2 separate regions of the Homo sapiens genome follow, and region 2 is linked to region 1. The links come from fine-mapping of genetic effects on gene expression. A gene starts in region 1. The other region holds a variant in brackets. All regions are shown on one strand. Distances are from middle to middle.

The links. PIP is the estimated chance that this variant, and not a neighbour inherited with it, causes the effect.
Region 2: its variant is fine-mapped to the expression of HTRA3 in whole blood (TOPMed, PIP above 0.99).

The regions. Positions count from the first base shown.
Region 1 is chr4:8,268,207-8,270,706 of GRCh38, forward strand. It overlaps HTRA3 (HtrA serine peptidase 3), which reads left to right and starts at 1,548. Exons shown (of 9, transcript NM_053044.5): 1 at 1,548-2,147. The coding sequence starts at 1,763. It overlaps LOC105374373 (a long non-coding RNA gene), which reads right to left and starts at 1,975. Exons shown (of 2, transcript XR_001741572.2): 1 at 1,901-1,975; 2 at 400-1,190.
Region 2 is chr4:8,401,651-8,404,658 of GRCh38, forward strand. The region is part of intron 7 of ACOX3 (acyl-CoA oxidase 3, pristanoyl); the gene reads right to left. Among named protein-coding and RNA genes, the nearest start is that of ACOX3, 38 kb to the right of the region's middle. RefSeq lists a silencer at 1,774-1,971. The variant G/A (reference allele first, on the strand shown) is at 1,309.

The DNA.
Region 1 (2,500 bases):
GGCCTGAAATTCTCCACATCTTCAAAGTAAAGTGCACTTGAGGTTTGTAGAGGCAGAAACGCAGGTGCTATTGCCCCTTGTCAAAGGGCCTTTTAGGGGGAGAAGCTCCAGGTCCCTTCTCTCCCCGTCCCCTGGGACCCTTCAACCTTTCACTCTCTCTGGGTCCTATGGGGGCTCACACTTGGCGCCCCGCCTCCTCCCACCTCATCCTCCCCAGACATCTTGTCTGATGGGGCCGCTCCCTACTCAACGCCTCCCCAGGCCTTTGAGGACCCAGGGCCCTCAGGGATCAGGCCCCTCCACCTTCCCATTCCCCGAGGCCCTTTAACCTCCAGCTCCCCCTCCCTCCTCTGGACCAGAGGTACCCCTCCCCATTCTTAACTTGGGTATCTGTGAACCTGGATGGAAAAACGTCTTTATTTACCCCAACAACTCCAACTGAAGTCCAGCATTCATTCCTTTGGGGGTGCAGTTGACCCCAGCCAGCAGGGCCTGTGGCTCCACGGCCAGCAGAAGCAGTGTTTACATCCCCATGTTACCGCCCTCACCGAAGGTGTCTCCAGTGGCAGCCCTCTGCACAGGGCTGCTGCGAAGTGTCCACTGGTATCAGACGACAGACCGACCAGAACCTGCCATTAACATGCTGATAAAGAAGCCCATAGGCCACGCTGTCATGAATTGTTTCATGTATTTTGATAACTGTGTTTTGATAGAATTGTTCCCCTTTGTGACCCCATGGTCTTTGTTTTATGCGTTTAAATCTACTTGACGACATCGTTCTGAAAAGGACACCCAGGCTTCGCCAGGCAGCCCAGGGTACTAGGAACACACACAGTGTGAAGACCGCAGCTCCAGGCTGTGCGCGCGGCGTTATCTCCTGCTGCCCCGACCTGCTTTTGCTTGGGAGCCTCTGCCCAGGTCACGGCCAGCTCCCGCTTCCCATCCTTCCTCTTCAGGCTTGACATTCACCTCCAAGGGGGGTTCTGCCTTCTCTCACAACTCCGCAGCCTTCACCCCATCAGCTGACGCACTGTCACCAGATTCTGACTCTCGTGATGGGACCTGGGTCTGAAGGGGCCCTGCAGAAAATGCAGGAGCAATGATGAGAATGGAAACAGCTTCCGGTTCCGTGGACAGCGAGGACTCGGGAACACTGCTCAGCCATGGCCTCTGTGGTTCTTCCAACGACCCTATGAGGTTGAGAAATGCTGTCAATTCCCCTTTCCTGGAGGAGGAAACTGAGGCACAGAGGAGACTGGACACGGACAGACCCCTCCAGAGCGGGGAGAACGCATCCCCCAACGTTTCTGGGATAGGCTGGGCCCGGGGGTCCCCACCAGAAAGGACCCCTGCGTGTCTGTAGCCTCGGGTTTTCTCGACCAGGCCGACCAGAGTCCCAAGGCCTGCCGGGTGGGTCCAGGCCCGGAAGGCCAGGCGGGGCCCTGTCGGGGCCTGGGCGGGGCTGGCGGAGGGGCCGGGCCGCCCCTTCCAGCGAGGGCGGGCTGGGCGGTCGCCTTTAAAGGCGCGGGACCCGCCGCCCGCGGACCGTCAGGCTGGAGGGAGCTGGTCCCTGCGCTCCCTGCGCCCTGGGGATGCCCCTGCCGCCCTGACGCCCGCCAGCCTGAGCCACCGGCGCATGTGACCGCGCGTCCGCCCCAGTCCCATCCGTAGGCGCCCGGCGCCCGGCCCCGCAGCGGCCTCGTTGTCCCCGCCGGCCCCCGCCCGGTCTCCCGCGCTGCCACCCGCCGCCGGCCCTGCCGCCATGCAGGCGCGAGCGCTGCTCCTGGCCGCGTTGGCCGCGCTGGCGCTGGCCCGGGAGCCCCCTGCGGCGCCGTGTCCCGCGCGCTGCGACGTGTCGCGGTGTCCCAGCCCCCGCTGCCCCGGCGGCTACGTGCCCGACCTCTGCAACTGCTGCCTGGTGTGCGCCGCCAGCGAGGGCGAGCCCTGTGGCGGCCCTCTGGACTCGCCTTGCGGCGAGAGCCTGGAGTGCGTGCGCGGCCTATGCCGCTGCCGCTGGTCGCACGCCGTGTGTGGCACCGACGGGCACACCTATGCCAACGTGTGCGCGCTGCAGGCGGCCAGCCGCCGCGCGCTGCAGCTCTCCGGGACGCCCGTGCGCCAGCTGCAGAAGGGCGCCTGCCCGTTGGGTAAGCGCTCGGGGGCCAGGGAGGAAGTGAAGCTTCTTTCTCTTGGGGAAACTAAGGCCGGGAGTTAGGGCCGAGCTCGAGGTCGCCCTTCCCTGGGCACCACCGGGTGGCCCTTCAGAAATCATCCCACCAGCCCTCTGGTCTTTCAGATGAAGAAACTGAGGCCCGGAAAGGTAAACCGCTGTCCCCAAGGTCACAGAATTAGAGTCAAAAGGGAAACCCGGTGGTCTCCTGGCCACCCGAGGGGCCTCATCTAGGACTGTTTCCAGCTCTGGTCTCTTCAGAACTGATGTCTCGTGCCCATTCCCTTGATCCTTGGACCCCTGCTCTGTCCGGGTATTGAGTGAAGGGCA
Region 2 (3,008 bases), 130 kb after region 1:
ATCCCCCCAAGCTGACCTCCATCTGCCCCTCTAATTGCATCGCCACCTTGCCATGAGGTGGTCCCACCTGCCTGTGGTGCCCCATCTGCCCCTCTAACAGCATCACCGCCTTGCCATGAGGTGGTCCTGCCTGCCTGTGGTGCCCCGTCCACCAGGTTCTCTCCTGGCCTCATGCCCTCCATGCAGTCACTGTTGACACCAGGCAGCCCTCGGCCCACCTGGGAATTCTATGCCCCACCCTGGGAAGGGTATGAGGCGGACCCCAGGGTGGGATCCCTCAACCATCAACGTTCCTGGTTCCTGGGTGAGCTAGCTGCCTCTCAGCAGTCTCCCGGGGCTCACCCCCCTCCATGAGGGGGCCACCGTGCATGGGGCCTGCCAGACTTAAGGGACGGGCACGTAAGTGGCATGGTATGAACAAGTCAGGTGGGGCAGACGACATCCTCTGAGGCACAAGGGCCAGGCCATGATCCTGACTCCCAGGACAGCCTGAGGGAAAGACACAGCGACAGTTTCCACACTACCAGGAGGAGCAAGGCCCTGGGGCCGGGTGGGGACGGGGCTGGAGCTCCTTAGGGAAACCTGGGTGACCTGGTGAGGGAAGAGCTCTCGGCTGCTTTGCCAGGCCCCTGCCCACCTGCAGGAAGTGAAGGGCAGCGGGGGGGCCAGCTCCTCCAAAGCCCTAGGCCCAGCTGCCCAGTTTGGTAGCAGCTTCCCCCATGCCACAGCCGCACACTCAGAACACCCCACCTCGTGAGAAAAACCTTGCCTCGGTGCCAATGGCCCCAGCGTGCTCCAGCCTGTTACTTGAAAGCCAAGGAATGCCTTTTCCAGTATGATCCGGTCACAGTCAGCGCCCTTTTTAAGGAGTGGAAATTATTCCCCCATTCTCACCACACAGAATATATTTATACTTGCAAAAACATTCCCGTGAGTTTCAAAGGAAAGCAAACTTCCACGAATTCTCAGGGGATCCCTTCTGTTCCACAAAAGCTATTACAGTGGTGGTCACATGTGGCCAACTCAAATACAAGCCAGATCCAGTGTCTCCAGCGGGAGACGTGTGCGTGTGTCACAGGTGTGTGTGTGCACAGCACAGGAGTTGTGTGTGTGTGTCACTGGACATGCACGTGGCACGGGAGGCCTGAGTGTGGCACAGAAACCCTCACTCCAATCCCAGAAGCGCCCAGACCTCAGCACACACCCCGCGCCCTGGACATCCTGCTTCTTATTGCAGCAGCTTCCTTCCTCCTTTGGGGCCTGGAAGGGCCCCCCAAGCCCAGCCCAGCCAAGCCGCCAGAGCAGGCC[G/A]TTGAGTTCGGCAGCCATCCTCCCAGCCACCGCCTCAGCTCAGGGCAAACGCACGAAGAAAGACCCTTAAGGTGCAGCCCACCTTAAGAGTCTGGCTGAAACTATCACTTGAGAAGATCTTTATGATTTTGCTTTTAGAGCTATTTGGCTAAAATTAATCCACACAATTTACGTTTACCTTGGATTTGTAGGCAGTCATCCCACATACTCAGGAGTTCTTGTAAAGTGACAAAATCTAACCTACAAATTGTAACCACTTTTTTCAAGATAAATGATTTCAACATTGGTAACAAAAATCACTAAATTATAATGCTGATCTTGGAAAAGACAGACATCCAGGCAGAAACTGGCTGGGAAACCCGGAGGGAACACTGGTATCACTGCGCCCCCTGCTGGGTGCCCTGCCCAGACCCTCCAGCCCTGGATGGGAAATGTGCATTTCTGGAAAGGGGCGGAGAGCAGGCCGCCTGCATCACCCCGGCTGGCTCCCATCCCAGCCCAACCTAGGCCTTCAAAGGCTCAGGGATCAAAGATGGACGAATCCCACTGCATCCCTGTCACCCTGCAGAGAGACACGGTGGAAAGGCTCTGGGGGCTCAGTGACCTGGCTTGGTGGAGCAGCTCTGAACCAGCGTCAAAGGGCGGTCGTTATTGTGTTAGTGGCGATCCTATAGGAGACCGTATTTCTGAGTCTTACAAGAGGCTTTACCATATCAGTGTGATGTATTAATCATTAATGGTTTGATCTAATGCTCCTTTGAATATTATCCCAGTAAGAGGTGTGGATTCAATCTCTAGAAATACGTTTATTAGGGGGGAACCAAGTGCAGGGTTTCTCTGCAATGTCCCAAAATAATGTCAAAGCCTCTCATTCATGAAACTGAATGAGCAGTGAAGAAGAGCCTTGCTCACACCCGAGGCCACCCACTGGATGTGACAATTCACCACCGCCATATGCCCGGGTGGAGATGCCTGTCGGGCCTTACGTGCACACATAGGACACTTCAGTAGATGGGTAACAGTGCCTGTGGCTGCAGAGCCCTGAAAGGGATCAGCCGGGTCTAATAAAAGGATGCAGATTCTCCAGAACAACACAGTGCTTCCTACACCCCATTTCCTGCACAGCGCTTCAGAGCTTCTCACCCTGAGGCCAGAGCCATCCTTCTCAAACAGACCAAGCCGCATTACATCCTCCAGATGGCTGGGGCTTCCCGCTGCCCTGAGGGCGAAGGGCCTGAACAGCGACCCTCCATACCTGCTACACGGGCACCGTCCATGCCAAGCGCCTCCCAGGCACCCTGCGAAAGTAGTCATTCAAGAGAACTGACAGCCGCAGGTCGGGGTGGCGCTCTCCTCCCTGCCAGCTCCAACATTAACTAGCAGGTTCCTTGTATTATTTTAGTATAAGCCAGTGAGAACCCAGAACTCTGCAGGACAGGTGGAGTTAGGAGGGCTGTGCATATGTGTCTTGTTTTGCTTTTTTTTTTTTTTTTTGCCTGAAATCACAAGAATTTGCTTTTTAACAATGTCCTTTTACTTTCTTCTCAAGTTGACACTGTATAAAAATCAATCAAGATTTTCCTCTTTAGTACAGTCTGGGGCCCTGCCTGTTTTAAAGGGCCAAGCAGAGATTTAAGACACTCCCTGCCCATCACCCTGACTTCTCAGAAGAGACAGGCAGAAGGAGGTTTCTCCATCGC